Regions from separate parts of the Homo sapiens genome. Here region 2 is linked to region 1. Evidence: fine-mapped expression QTL. Tissue or cell type: whole blood. Region 1 holds a variant in brackets; the other region holds the start of a gene. All regions are shown on one strand. Distances are from middle to middle.

Region 1 (8,184 bases):
GCCAGGATGTGTTTCAGATTTTTGTCTCTCTTCACACATGTCCACTTCCCCTTTGATGTTCTCTACCACGTTATGATGCAGTACAAAAGACCTTGCCAGAAACCAAGGCCATGCCCTTGAACTTCCCAGCCTGCAGAACTGTGTGAGCTAAATAAACCTCTTTTCTCCTCTTTCTTTCTTTCTCTTTTCTCTTTCTTTCTTTCTTTCCTTTCTTTTTTTCTCTCTTTCTTTCTTTTTTTCTTTCTTCTTTTCCCTTTCTTTCTCCTTCCTTCCTTCCTTCATTCCTTCCTCTTTCTTTCTCCCTTTCCTGTCCTTTCCTTTCCTTTCCTTTCCTTTCCTTTCCTTTCCTTTCCTTTCCTTTCCTTTCCTTTCCTTTCTTTCCTTTCTTTCTTCTGTTCCCCAGGCTGGAGTGCAGTGGCATGATCTTGGCTCACTGCAACCTCCACCTCCTGGGTTCAAGCGATCCTCCCACCTCAGCCTCCCAAGTAGCTGGAACTGCAGGTGTGTGCCACCACATCCAGCTAATTTTTTGTAAATTTTTTTTGTACAGACTGGGTTTCAATATGTTGCCCAGGCTGGTCTTGAACTCTGAGGCTCAGGCAATCCACCTGTCTTGGCCTCTCAAAGTGCTGGGACTATAGGTGTGGGTTACCACACCTGGCCAAATCTCTTTTCTTTATAAATTACCCAGTCTCAGATATTTTGTTAGGATGACACAAAACAGACAACACAGAGATTAAACTTGTGAATGTGTCATACCTGTAGTCATTACATTGTGAAAAACACAAAAAATTGAGGAAATAAATACTCTTGAAGTATTCAAAAACGATTTTTCAATTTAACCAAGAAGTTGCTCATATCATTGACCAACAAGTGAAGTTCAGGCAAGTTGTTTCACTTTAATTTCAAGTTGTTCCATTTTAATTTTAAGTTGTTCATATATAAATAAAACCATCAACCAACATTCATACTGGAAACTACACTCAGAACCAGTTGTTTATCATATATCATCATACCACTGATTTTACAGCATATAAATAATGAAAGTCTCTCTTTCAAATATTACATCTTATCTTATTTTTTGCATCTACTGCATCGGCTAGGGCTCTAATACAATGTGGAATAACAGCAGTGTTTCTCGACATTCTTGATTTGATCCTAATTTTAATGTTTCTATTTTGTTATTAAAAATGATGTTGTTCTGGATTTCTGGTAGATATTAGTGAGAGTTCTGGAATTTCATTTGAATACTTTCCTTCCTACATACTAATAGGAAACTTCTGCTGCTGGTTCTAGGAAAATTTCCTATTAAAAAAAATTCTTCCATTTTCTACAATTCTTTATTTTCCTTCCAAATTGTATGAACATATGGATTCCAGAGACCTAGCAACACTTGGCACAACATCACACTTAAACAAAACACCTCTTGTGGCTCCCTGAAAAAACATGCCTATACTCCTTGTTTCTACTCCCTAGCCCATCATTACTCTTATGTCAATTTATGCCACTCTTATGCCATATGTGCTTTTGTTCCCTGTACCCACCCCACACCACTAAAACTCCTCAAGTTGAAGTTATCAGAGACCTCTATTGTGCCAAATCCACTTGGTAATTCACTGTCCTCATCTCAGAGCATTACCTATTATTATCCACTTGACCATCTTTCCTTCAATCCCTCTCTCTGCTTGGCATCTGGGGCATCATGCTCTTTTGGCCTTATTCCCTCTTCATTGGCCACTCCTTTTTAGTTTTCTTTACTTGCTGTGTTGGTCTGTTCTTGTGCTGCTATGAAGAAATACCAGCTCCTGGGTAATTTATAAAGAAAAGAGGTTTAATATGCTCATAGTTCTGCAGGCTGTGCAGGCACGGTGCTGGCATCTGCTCTGCTTCTGGGGAGGCCTCAGGAAGCATTTACTCATGGCGAAAGGCAAAGCGAGAATGGGTGCATCACATGGCAAGAGTAGGAGCAAGAGAGGGAGTAAGAGAGAGAGAAGAAGGAGGTCCTAGACTCTTTTAAACAACCAGATCTTGTGTGAACTGAGCGAGAACCCACTCATCACCAAGGAGATGGTGCTAAGCCATTCCTGAAAGATCTGCCATGTGACCCGATCACCCCCCACCAGACCCCACCCCCAGCACTGGGGATTACATTTCAGCATGAGATTTGGAGGGGACAGACATGCAAACTATATCACTTACTTCTCTTCCTCATTTTTGTCTCTGTATGTGGAAAGTCCTGGTGAGCTTGAGCTTAGTCCTCAGCCCTCTTTTCTACCCAGTTCGATGGCTTCAAGTACAGTTTATTTGCTGACAACTTCTACATTTATGTTTGCCAAACTTCTTTCTAGAGTGTTCAAATACATACTCCTATATCCATTTGGATATCTCAGAGACATCTCAACCTTAATGAAGCCAAAATCATACTCTTAATTCTGAGCCCTGCCTCCAAGTCTACTCCGTTTTCAGCATTCCTTTCTTAGCTAATGACACTATTATTGGCTTATACCACAATCTATAACTCACACAGGATTCTGTTCTTCCTCTCGCTTCCACAGTGGGTTTGTATAAACCAAACCCTACAGCCAAGTAATGTGATACACTTAATGAAGCGTTGGTAGCTATAGCCCCTTGGTCAAATCCAGTTTGCTGCCTGTTTTTGTAAATAAAGTTTTATTGGAAAGCACCATACAATTCAATTGTGTTTTGTCTATAACTTCTTTTGTGCTATAATGGCAGGCTGAGTAGTTGAACAGAGATCATATGGAACAGAGATCAAAAAGCTTAAACTATTTACTATCTTGTGTTCGCTATAGAAAATGTTTGCCAACCCTTCTTTTAATCGGCTGGAATACCGCTGACCCAACCTGAACTATGGTTGGGTCATATGTTTATGTTGCAACATTTATTTGCTGACAACTTCTACATTTTTTGTGACAATGTTTATGTTGAAAGTGTTTCAGTTCTCTGCCATGTTATATCAAACTACCACCACATTTCGTGGCTTAAAACAATCATTTGTTGTTGTTCATGATTTGTAGATTGTAGATCTTCTGTGTCACATGGTATTGGCTGGGGAGCTAGACTTGGTGGTTGGAAGGTCCAGAATTGCTTCACTCCCATGGCTGACAGTTGGTCTCTACCTGGGTCTTAAATGGGGCTGTCAGCTGAAACCCTCATTTTTCTTTGATGTGGATCTCTCCCATGTGACTGCTTGGACTTCCTCAGAATATGTCAGCTAGGTTCCAAGAATGGGCATTCTTAGAGAACAATCACCAATATGCAAATGCTTATGAAGCCTCTGCTTTGCAACATTTAATAATATCAATTTGTGAGGAGGAGGGACTGCTCCTCAACTCATTCTATGAACCAGCATCATCCTGATACCAAAACCTGGCAGAGACACAACAAAAAACATAAACTTCAGGCCAATATCCTTGATGAACATTGATACAAAAATTCTCAACAAAATACTAACAAATA[G/T]AATCCAGCAGCACACCAGAAAGCTAATCTAACATGATCAAGTAGGATTTATCCCTGGTATGCAAGGCTGGTTCAACATATGCAAATCAATAAACATGATTCATCACATAAACAGAACTAAAGATGAAAACCACATAATTAACTTAATAGATGCAGAAAAGGCTTTGGACAAAATTCAACATCCCTTCATGTTAAAAACTCTCAACAAACTAGGTATTGAAGGAACATACCTCAAAATAATAAGAGCCATCTATGACAAACCTACAGCCACGATCATATTTAGTGGGCAAAAACTGGAAGCATTCCCCTTGAAAACAGGCACAAGGCAAGGATGCCCTGCTTTATCACTCCTATTCAACATAGTGTTAGAAGTCCTGGCTAGAGCAAACAGATGGGAGAAAGAAATAAAGGGCATCCAAAAAGAAAGAGAGGGAAGTGAAACTATCCCTCTTTGCAGGCTACATGATTCTATATCTAGAAAACCCCATAGTCTTATCAAAAGCTCCCTGAGCTTTTAAGCAACTTCAACAAAATTTCAGAATACAAAATTAATATACAGAAATCACTGGCATTCCCATACACCAACAACAGCCAAGCCAAGAGCCTAATCAGGAACCCAATCCCATTCGCAATTGCCACAAAAAGAAGAAAATACCAGGAATATAGCTAACCAGGAAGGTGAAAGATCTCTACGATGAGAATTATGAAACACTACTCAAAGAAATCAGAGACGACACAAATGGAAAAACATTTCATGCTTATGGTTAGGAAGACTCAATATTGTTAAAATGATCATACTGCCTGCTATTCCTATCAAATTACTAATGACATTTTTCACAGAAGTGGAAAAAATGATTTTAAAATTCATATGGAACCAAAAAAGAGCCCAAATAGCCAAGTCAATCCTAAGCAAAAGAACAAAGCAGGCATCATGCTACCTGACTTCAAACTATACTACAGGGCTACATTAACCAGAACAGCATGGTTCTGGTACAAAAACAGACACATAGACCAATGGAACAGAATAGAGAGCCCAGGAATAAGACCAAACACATATAACCATCTGATCTTCAACAAAGCTGACAAAATAAGCGATAGGGAAAGAACTCCCTATTCAATAAATGGTGCTGGGATAACTGGCTATCCATATGCAGAAGATTGAAACCAGCCCCCTTCTTTACACCACATACAAACATCAACTCAAGATGGATAAAAGACTTAAATGTAAAACCCCAAACTATAAAAACCCTGGAAGACAACATAGGCAATACCATTCTGGACATAGGAAAGGGCAAATATTTCATGATGAAGACACCAAAAGTAATGCAAGAAAAGCAACAATTGACAAATGGGATCTAATTAAACTAAAGATCTTCTGCGCAGCAAAATAAACTATCAACAGAGTGAACAGACAACCTACAGAATGGGAGAAAATTTTTGCAGACTGTATCTGACAAAGGCCTAATATCCAGCATCTACATTGGAACTTAAACAAACTTACAGGAAAAAAACAAATCACCTCATTAAAAAGTGAGCAAAGGCATGAACACTTTTCAAAAGAAGATATACATGCAGCCAACAAGCATATGAAAGAAAGTCACTGATTATTACAGAAATACAAATCAAAACCACAATGAGGTACCATCTCACACCAGTCAGAATGGCTGTTATTAAAAGTCAAAAAATGACAGATGCTGGCAAGGTTGTGAGAAAAGGGAACACTTATATACTGTTTTGGGAGCATAAATTCGTTCAACCATTGTGAAAAGCAGTGTGGCAATCCCTAAAAGGGCTGAAGACAGAACTACCGTTTGACCCAGCAATCCCATTACTGGGTCTATACCCAAAGGAATATAAATCATTCTATCATAAAGACACATGCACGTGCATGTTCATTGCAGCACTATTCACAATAGCAAAGAAATGGAATCAACACAAATGCTCCTCAATGATAGACTGGATAAGAAAATGTGGCACATGTACACCATGGAATACTATGCAGCCATAAAAAAGAACAAGATCATATCCTTTGCAGGAATATGGATGGAGCTGCAGGCCGTTATCCTTAGCAAACTAACCCAGAAACAGAAACAAATAACCACATGTTCTCATTTGTAAGTAGGAGCTAAATGATGAGAACACATGGATACAGCGAGGGAAACAACAGATGTGGGGGCCTACTTGAGGGTGAAGGGTGCGAGGGGGAGAGGATCAGAAAAAATACTTATTGAGTACTAGTCTTAGTACCTGGGTCATGAAATAATTTGTACAACAATCTTTCGTGACGTGAGTTTATCTATAAAACAAACCTGTACAATTACCCCTGAACCTAAAATAAAAGTTTTTTAAAAATTAATTTGGCCCAAACTGGTCACATGGCCAAGTTCAGAGTAAATGTGAGAGAGAAATACACAAAGGTGTGAGCATGGGAGGTATGGTTCGTTGGGACCCCCAAAATACAGTGTACCTCATGGTGGTTCCCTAAAAACCCAACAAAAGAGTGAATGAGTGCTGGGCAGAGTTTTAAAAAATGTCTACTATGAGCTACTAAAGTTTTAACTTACTTAATTTGAATAAAATGTTGAATTTTATTAAATCCTTCTTTAGCACTTTTGAGTTGGTTATATAATTTTTTCTTTTAGTTTATTAATGTTGTTTCACAGTTACATAAATTCATTTAAAAAATTAATTCATTTAAAATTTGGACTATTATTTGATTCCTGGATAGAACTTTTTAATCATAATATATTATGTACTGTAGGATTCAATTTTCTAATAACTTATTTATGACTTTTGCATTTAAGATTGTAAATAAGATTAGGGGATTTCAATTCCTCTGGGAGGCCACTGGTGGTCCTGATACTGCAGCTTCTGTTGCATGGGACCTGCTGTGGCTGCCTGAATCGTAGAGAGGATGCCAGGACACCAGGAAGCTGGAAATGGACTCAGTAGGCTTTGAGAATGTGGCTGTGAACTTCACCCAGGAGGAGTGGGCTTTGCTGGGACCTTCCTGGAAGAATCTCTACAGAAATGCAATGCTGGAAGCCTTCAGGAATCTGGTGTCTGTAGGAATCAAATGGAAAGCCAGGACATTGAAAATCTGTCCCAAAATCTTGGGAGAAAGCTACGAAATAATATGGTGGAGAGACTCTGTGGATGTAAAGAAGGAGTCAATGTGGAGAAACCCGCAGCCAGAAAGCAGATTGTCATCTGAACAAGAAAATTCGTACTGGAGTAAAACCATGCAAGGCAGTGTGTGTGGAATAGTCTTTGTACATCATTCATTCCTTCATAGGCACATGAGCTCACTCTGGACACAAACAATATGAGTGTGGTGGGGAATATGGTGAAAAGCCCCATAAACATAAACAATGTGGGAGAGCCTCCATTTCTCCCAGAAGTGGTCCAAGACTCATGGTAATATGCACTAGAAAGGGATGTTATAAATGCAAGCTATGAGGCAAAGCCCTTAATTTCAGTATTTATTTCACAATGAACTCACACTGGAAAGAGGTTCTATAAATGTAGAGAAATTGTGAGAGCCTTCACTGTTTTCATTTACTTTCAAATACATGAAAACATTCACACTGGAGAAAAATGCTGTGAATGTAAACACTGTGGAAAAACATTTGATTGTTCCAGTTCCTTTCATTTTAATTTTTAATTAAATTAAATTTATTTTTTGAGATGGAGCCTCACTCTGTCACCCAAGCTGGAGTGCAGTGGCGCGATCTCAGCTCACTGTAACCTCTGCCTCCTGGGTTCAAGCAATTATCCTGCCTCAGCCTCCCGAGTAGCTGGGATTACAGGCGTGCACCACCACATCTGGCTGATTTTTGCATTTTTAATAGAGATGGGGTTTCATCAGGTGAAACCAGGCCAGGCTGGTCTTGAACTCCTGACCTCACGTGATCCACCTGCCTTGGCCTCCCAAAGTGCTGGGATTAAAAGGTGTGAGCTAATGCGCCTGGCCCTAGTTCCTTTCAAATACATGTTAGAACTTACACTGGAGAAAACCCTTACCAATGCAAACACTGTGGTAAAGCATTCATTTCTTCAACTTACCTTTGGACATATGAAATCAGAGCTCATGTTCTCGAGAAATCTCATGAATGTAAGGAATGTGGGAAAAGACGCAATTGTTCCAGTTTCCTTTGAAGACACAAAAAAATGCATAGTGCAGGAAACCTTCATGAATGTAAAAAATGTGGTGAAGTCTTTAGATGTCCCACGTCCCTTCAAGCACATGAAAGAACTCATATTGGAGAGAAACCCTACGAATGTAATACATGGGGCAGAACCTTTAATTATCTCAGTTCCTTTTGAAGACATGAAAAAACTCATACTGGAGGAAAATCCTATGAATGTAGAAGGTGTGGTAGGACCTTTGGGTCGTGCAGTTCCCTTGGAAGACATGAAAGGACTCACGCTAAACAAAAACCCTATGACTGTAAACAATGTGGGCAAGTCTTCAGTTTTTAAAATTACCTTTGACTACAGGAAAGAACTCATTTTGCCCAGTGCAGCCAGTACTTTGAAAGACTGAGGCAGGAGGATCATCTGAGTCCAGCAGTTTGAGACCAGCCTGGGCAACATAACAAGACCTTGTATCAAAAAAGAAAAAAGAAAAAAAATTAACTGGGTCGGGTGGTATGTGCTGGTAGTTTCAAGTACTCAGAAAACTGAGGCAGGAGGATTGCTTGA
Region 2 (8,184 bases), 40 kb after region 1:
TTTGCCATCTGCTTCCCTTCACGCCTCTGTCCTGCTTGTTCTGCAAGCTGGTCTCATCTGAGCCCAGAGCAGCAGGCTAGTTCACTGACACTCATAGATTTGGCAGGAGCATTTGCTCTTTGAATACATTGATGTCAGGAGGTACACTTCAGATAGGGAAACAGGAAATTACTAGAAGACCTGAACAAGAATGGCAACTTGAAACTGGAACACACAAGGGTACTGGGTGTCTGGAAGCCAACTGAAGTAGAAAGATTTCCAGAGAATGTGGGAAATTACCATCCAAGCCTTCGGCCTTGGCCTCTAGGTCTCCAGTTTACTATAAACAGCAGGTGAAGACTTTCAGTAACTAGAAAGGAAGCCTCATTGACTGGCGATTGAAAATGTCAGGGGTGCAATGAATGCGTGTCTGGTAATCTGCCCAGTGTGTCTTCTCTGGGAAACCTCTGCTCATAAACAGGGATGGGCCCTGGCAGCCATACTGGTCCCCTGCAGCCCCCATCATCTATGATTAGGGTTAGGGTTAGGCAGGTGATTTAGTCCTTGTGGGTGCAGCTCTGGAACATCATTTCTCTGACACTGGGACATAGGAGCCAGGGGCTGGTTATCAGAATAGGAGAATAGAGCACAGGTGTAGAGAGAGCACCTGCTATGGAAAAAAATTCCATTGAGTTCCTCCTGGCTTTTCAGGTCTGCGATCTGGGTCTTCCTGAGGACTAACTTATTTTTGCCTTTGGGTTCTATTATACATCTATCTAATCTATCAATCAACGATCTATTATCTATCTATCAACTATCTATTATCTATCATCTATCTATCAACTATCTATTATCTATCATCTCTCTCTCTCTCTCTATCTATCTATCATCTATTTTAGAGACAGGGTCTTACTCTGTTGCCCAGGCTGGAACGCAGTGGCAAAATCTCTGTTCACTGCAGCCTAGAACTCCTGGCCTCAAGCAATCCTCCCACCTCAGCCTCCCGAGTAGCTAGGACTACAGCTGCACACCACCAAACCTGGCTAATTTTTAAATTTTTTGTAAAGATGTCTTGCTATGTTGCTCAGGCTGGTGTTGATTTCCTGGCCTCAAGTAATCTTTCCACCTTGGCCTCCAAAGTTGTTGAGATTATGGGCATGGGCTACTGTATGCAGCCTCTTCTGTCTATCTAATGAATTTCTGTCCTCTATTAGGGTGAAGAGATAGCTTTTCAGTGGCTTTGAAGCATTGTGCCAAATATTTCAAAGATCACATTTTAAAATCTACTTTTTGATTTATTTAGTTGCTGCAAATTTTGACTTATCTGTCACTAATCAGCTGGATGTACTGAGATACTTTGACATTTCCTAATGTCTGGTGCTTTCTCTTTCTGGCCCTCCATAGTGAGGGCTGGATCTCTTCCCTTATAGGTATCTGCTAATGCTGGAGGCTCAACTGATAAAGTAAAGATAGCCATCCCAAGAAGCAGGCGGAAAGGCTGGGGCTAATAGAACAGATCTCTACTCCAGGGGCTTCAATTCTGCCCTAGTTCTGGTCAAATAGGATTAATACTGCTCACCGTTACTATCCTAAAAGGGCTGTCATGGTTGAAAGTGGGCATTTACTATTTTCAGTGTCTTTTGTTGCTGGAATAAAGGAGATGATAATATGAAACAAAAATCAGGTTGCTTCTCCTCATATTTTGCTCAGCTCCCAAGCATTCAGAATGTCGTTACTAATTAGACATTTGTTTCAACATTCTGGGGCCATCCAGGCTAGGCAATCTTGTGATGTGGGGAAAGTTGACTGGTTATGCAATGGCTTTGCATTAGATCCCCTGCTCCCTTGCAGGCGCTGAATGCTCTTCTGTTGTTCTCTGGATCTAGAACCCTGTCCCTTTTCTCTGGGATGGCTCCTACTGATGTTTCAGCTTATTCCTCATTTGCTGCAGGACAGTCTCCTTGGCCCCATAGTACTCTTGATTTCCCCATCACCTGTGCAGTAATAGTTTCTCTATAGATCCACCAGTCTTGTCTTATTCATTGTTATATCCACAGATCTAACCTATTTCTAGTAAACAGTAGGTTCTTCCTAGATCCATTCCTGATGATTGGCTTAATGAATGAATGCTCATTTTACTGGTGACTCTGAAAAAGGAAAAAAAAAAATAATGATTTTACTCCACTATCAGCAACTCGATGTTGCCCGTCAGGAATCCTTGTAACAAAATACAAAGTTACCATTGCCTACGAGGTCCTCACCTCCTTCTCCAACCTGTCTAGTAGCACTCTCCTTATGCACCATGATACCCATGCTGGCTTTCTCTCTGTTCCTGCTATACATCACTTTTCTTCCTACTTCAAGTCCTTTGTTCTTGCTATTTTATCTGCCCTGGAGTTTTGCTAAGTTGGTGTTTTCTTATTTAGGTGGTGCCTCAAATCTTAGAGCATTTCTCTTAGATCATTTCTCCTTAAAGCATTTTTCTCCTTTCCCAAAATTAAGTGTGTCTCCCATCCCTCTGGTCACTGTTTTCTTCTTTGCCCTGATCCCGGTCTGGAAGTTTATCTTTTTATTGGATCATTGTCCATCTTCTGATAAAAACAGCTGCAAGTCTGTCTTGTTCAAGGCTATACTCTGAGTGCTTAGTAGAAAGCCTCGTTCATTGCAGTATCTAGTATTTGATGATTAATATTGATTACGTTTGATGAGTAAATGAATAAAAGAATAATCTTAGACATACATTATTTAATCCCAGTGAAAGAATGTTAGTGATGGAATTTCAGGTGTTATTGTAGAAGAAACTTTTGAAGGGTATTCCCTACAGTTTGTTCATACTAGGCTAAGTTCCTCTTCTTTTCCTTACACAATGTAAAAATATTAGATCTCAAAACTATTTGCTCAAAGTACTTACTTTAGGACACGTATTTTTAGACTACAGTTTAGAATTACAGTTATTATTAGAAAGGTTTGGTAAAAACTCTTTTTGTTAGGCAATAAGGTTATTCTGTCCTCCAAAGACCTTTACTTTATTCTCAGGAAGTAAGAGAGAAAAAAGAATTTCTTGTCTTCTTTCTATCAGGTGTTTTGCCCTTACTTCTCTTTAAGTTTATGTTTACCTTAACATTCCTTTCCTTCCTCAGGTTTGCTTTTTGTCTATCTCCATTTTTCACTATTACGTAATTCACGGAGTTGCTGGGGGGAAGTGCTTAATTTCAAATAGCCTGTTTTAGAACTTTGCGAGAATGACAAGAACAAACAGAATGTTAAGGCAGCTAGAGAGAGTTAAGTGAGAGTGGTCCCTAGGTGAGAAATGCTTCTTGCCTTCTAGGCTGACACCAGTTCTGGGGGATGTGTTCTGAGAGCTCATATTAACTGCAGGTCATTGATCCTTATCTCAATCCCCTTCCTCTCCCTTCAGCTTTCCATTCAAAGTCTCTATCACATCTTGAAGTGTTGTCACATTATTTTTTTTCTGATGATTCCCTCCATCAGCTGAGCTTTCCAATTTATATTACCTGATTTTTTTTTGTCTTCTGCTTTTTACTACCCCTTTTTCTAAAGCTTTATTGATTGTGTACTTTGGATTCTAATTCTTCCTATAAGAGTCTTCCTGTAATTCTGTTTGCAGTGTAGTGCTGTCCACATTATGTGTTGGTTACATGATAGGAAGGAGTATGGGGGCACCTCGGTCACATATGTAAAGTTCTTTAAGAGAGCTGAAGGGCGCTGATACCAGTTCATGTTTTTTCGGGGTAGCCCTCAGATATTAAGCATGTTTACTGTATTTTCTTCTATTGTGAAAGAATCAGTTCTCTGGATTTCCTTAAAGTTTGTCTTTACCATTCTCCGCACCCTACTCATTTTTCTATTTAAGAATTTTTTTTTCTAATCATGTAGTACATGTTCAATATGGAACACAAAAAGGTAATAAGAAAAAGTCACCTACAGTGTCGCCAAAGGTGAAAACACCTTATGTCTTTTTTCGTGCATAACAATATCCCTCTCAATCTTATGCAGCATTTTTAAACCTAGGAGACTTGTCTGAATCCAAAGGAAGTTAAAGATTACGTTATTCACCAAGTTCATACTGAAATCAGAGAATCGCAGCGGCTTAAGAAAACTCGCATCTGGCGAATGAACCTGCGTATCCGGGGTTCTCCTCAGGGAGGTTGCTCGTCCATGAAACACACTCCAGTCTGCAGCCACCTGGGAGTGGGAACCAAGGGCGAGCGAACCGGGCGGGCAGGGGTGGAACTTGCGGGGACTGCGGGTATGAGGAGGAGCTACAGAGCTGTCACCAATCAGAGCCCAGCTTTGTTTTCTCTTGCCGACCAATGAGGGAGTTCTGCTGGAGAGGCGTCTTCAAGTCTGAGACGCCTATCGCCTTCGCAGCCTATCAGCAGGCCCCTCTTACCCGCGGGCGGTGCAGCCCCGCCCCGCCCCTCCAACCGCGGTCCCGCCCCTCCGAGGGTGGGGGCCGTGTTGGTTACTAGCCGGGCTGGAGGCGGGGGCCGGGCTCCCACTGGGCTCGTGCGTTCTGCGCCCGCCGCGGCGGTGCCGAGCCCGCTGGCTCCCGATTGTCCTCTGCGGCGGTGGCGGTCGCTGCCTCCTTGCCTCCGGGCCCGGGGCTGCAGGGGCCAGAGCGAGTGCGCCTCCTGCCCGCGGACCGCGGCAGCCCAGAGCAGGTAATGGGGCGCCTCTGGGGAGCGCCTGTCGGAGCCCAGGGCTAGGCTCGGGCGGTGGGGTCGGCCCCCGAAGCTGCTCCCTGCGCCGGCGACCGGGCCGAGCGGTGCCGCGGTCCTCCGGAGCCTCCTGCCGGCCTCTAGGCGCCTCAGCCTGGGAGCCCGCGGCGGGCACCTTGTGAGGAGGTGGGGGCGGGGCCGGGGCAGGGGCGGGGCCGCCTCGGGCGGGACCCTGAGGACCCCTGGAGACCCCTGTTGACGCGCGGGACTCCGGGCGGGGGCGGCGGCGGGGCAGACCCAGAGCGGGGAGAACCGACAGGTGGAGGAAAAACTGCGGAGTTGAGTCAGAGTCCGGCTCCCCGGGGAAAAGAACCGACTGAAAGGGAGCGATAAGCTGGCTGGCTTCTTTTTTTTCTTTCCCTAAGCCAGAAAGGCGTCTTCACTTGGGTCGTGTTAATTACATGTTTTCTGAGAACAGGCGTTTGGCCGTGTAATCTACACGATAGCATTATTTATTTACTTATTTGCTATTTAAAAAATTAAAAGCAGCATTTAGCGTGAATCTATTTGGGGGCTTTTTCTTAAGTGACAGGTAGACCCAGCCGAGTAACTCAGCTTTGTCTGGGCTGAAGTGGGGAGCGGTGAGGTAGGAATGAGGGGGAGGAGTGTTCGTGAGGAATGCCTGTGCAGGTTTGAAAGGATTGTGGGGGTGGGACCTTGTTTCTGTCACTGTGCCATGGGTGGGAGTAGAATTGTGATTTTTTTCTTTTTCTAATTTTTAAAAGCAATATTCACATTTAAAAAAGGGGGGGCTCTCTAAAAACAGTCTCTGTACTCGAGGCTTTGGGGATGCACCTGCTAGTCAGGCAGTAATAGTTTGCAGGTAAATCCTGGGCTATTAATTACGTAATTTGATTTACTTATAAAGAAGTATCTTGAATTGTTGCTGCCTTTCCTTTGACTTGCTCAATATATTGCTTGTTTACAAGTGAATTGATGAAGGTCACTGAGTTTTAGCGGTAATGTCACAGCGATGGCCCTTGGAGAGTTTTCTATGCTCAGGTTCACTCTGGTTCTATAAAAACAGTATTTCCATTTAATCGTGAAGCTCATAGCACTCTATCAATTATATAGTATGCCATCCTCCTACTCTTCTGAGGCAGGCTGTGCATAGCATGTCCATTTTACAGGTATGTCAACTGAAAGCCCTAGAAATGAAAGGAATCCTGCCCCACTTTACTCCTACTTTATTTTATACCTATAATGGATTTAATCCAAAATCTGGGTAAGATTCCCGCCATCAAGCCAACTTCTGCATACCAATTTGATCCCGTATACACAGGTCAGAGGTGGAGATGGTTATTTTCAAGTAAAGAAATATTATCTGCGAGGTTTTTCTTTCCATTCAGGTTGCTTAGCTAGTTTGAATTTCAGGTGAAAGGTAATTTTCCACACAGGCAAAACAAACAAAAGTTAGGAATGCTGTGTGAAAATCTCTATTTTAAATTTTGGGAAGCTTTCCAAATTAGAGAACCTTATTTGTGTTTGCATCTCTAGCTCAGCATTGAATTTCGGTACCTTTTTTTGAATTGAATAGAAATAATTGATATGCAGAAGGAAAATACTAATGAAGTGTAATGCATTTTGATCATGACTTATGACTTTGTTTCGGGAAGTGTTTACTGTAAATTTATAGACGGATTGAAGAATAATTTCTTAATTAGAATAACTTGACCAAAGGAGTTTGGGCATTAGTGTGGGACAGGCTGAAATGGGTAGTTGGGAGTAGCCGCTTGTATGATGTTAAGGCTTAGGGAATTCTAGAGAATCGTTAGGTTTTGTTAAATTTACTAGTTATCAGGAACATGAAAATGTCTTATGGATTACTGAATGGAACTCTTTTTTTTTTTTTTTCTGAGGTGGAGTCTCACTCTGTTGTCCAGGCTGGAGTGCTGTGGCTCACTGTGATCTCTGCCTCCCTGGTTCAAGTGATTCTCCTGCCTCAGCCTCTTGAGTAGCTGGGACTACAGGCGCATGCCACCACGCCCAGCTATTTTTTTTTTTTTAATATTTTTGTAGAGATGGGGTTTCACTATGTTGGCCAGGCTGGTCTCGAACTCCTGACCTCAAGTGATCTGCCTGCCTTGGCCTCCCAAAGTGCTGGGATTACAGGCGTGAGCCATTGCACCCAGCCTGAATGTAACTGTTCTAATCATGAAGTTATCTCTTGTTTTGTGGCTAATACCTCTGTTTCACATGTACATTTTAACATATTCATGTAACATATAAGGCAACTCTTCTTACACAAGGCTGTCACTCTAGCCCAGCATTTATTTACTTATTTATGTTTTAGTGGCTTTATTTAACTTTTACTCTCCTGTCAAAATTTCTAGCACCCAAGCAAAAATTTCCATAAAGGAACTTTTATCATCTGTTGATTATACAGAAAATGAATCATTTATTCTCATAAGCCCAGCCCTCTTGCATTGTGGGACACTGGAAAGATATTTTGGCTGTTTGTAAAGTATTTGCTTGTATTCTTACCTGAAGCTTTGACTTCTCCCCCTCCCCCAATGGTTTTCAGAGTTTCTGTGACTTTTTTCTTTAAATTAATTATGACACTACCTGACTTCCACTAGATGGTGCACTGGGGGGCGCTTACTGGAGATTTCAAACAGATTTTTGTTTTTCCTTGTTATAAACATTTCACTGACAAAGATACAAAGGTACTGCAGCTGTTTCTCTCCTAATTGCAATTCAGACAAAATTGTAATGAATGACTTAAGTCTTGAGTTTTGGCCAGGCATGGTGGCTCACGCCTGTAATCCCAGCACTTTGGGAGGCCGAGGCGGGCGGATCACAAGGTCAGGAGATTGAGACCATCCTGGCTAACACGGTGAAACCCTGTCTCTACTAAAAAATAGAAAAAATTAGCCGGGCGTGGTGGTGGGCGCCTGTAATCCCAGCTACTCGGGAGGCTGAGGCAGGAGAATTGGCCTGAACCCAAGAGGCAGAGCTTGCAGTAAGCTGAGATCGTGCCACTGCACTCCAGCCTGGGCCACAGAGCGAGACTCCGTCTCAAAAAAAAAAAAAAAAAGTCTTGAATTTTGTTAAATGAGATACATTCGGAAGGAAAGGGTATTCCTTCATTTTGAATTTAAAGTGAAGGAAATTGTTAGTCAGGCTTGCTCTCTGAAGATACTGTGTTTTTTACAAACTGAAGGTTCGTTGGCAACCCTGCAAGTCGATTGGTGCTATTTTTCCAATAGTGTATGTTCATTTTGTGTGTCTCTGTCATATTTTGGTAATTCTCACAATATTGCAAACTTTTCATTGTTATTCTGTCTGTTATGGTGATCTCTGGTCAGTGATCTTTGATGTTACGATTCTAATTGTTTTGGGGCTCCATGAACTGCACCTATATAATATGGTGAACTTAACTGATAAATGTTACATATGTTCTGATATCTCCACCAACTGGCCATTCCCCAACTCTCTTCCTCTCCCCAGGCCTCCCTATTCC

Evidence for each region. PIP is the estimated chance that this variant, and not a neighbour inherited with it, causes the effect.
Region 2: MPP7 starts here. The variant in region 1 is fine-mapped to the expression of MPP7 in whole blood (INTERVAL, PIP above 0.99).

Annotation. Positions count from the first base shown.
Region 1 is chr10:28,339,178-28,347,361 of GRCh38, reverse strand. It overlaps the pseudogene ZNF101P1. Among named protein-coding and RNA genes, the nearest start is that of MPP7-DT, 40 kb to the right of the region's middle. The variant G/T (reference allele first, on the strand shown) is at 3,481.
Region 2 is chr10:28,299,341-28,307,524 of GRCh38, reverse strand. It overlaps MPP7 (MAGUK p55 scaffold protein 7), which reads left to right and starts at 4,461. Exons shown (of 17, transcript NM_001318170.2): 1 at 4,461-4,664. MPP7-DT (MPP7 divergent transcript) reads right to left here and starts at 4,356. Exons shown (of 2, transcript XR_930772.3): 1 at 3,096-4,356; 2 at 1,254-2,126. RefSeq lists a silencer at 4,275-4,914.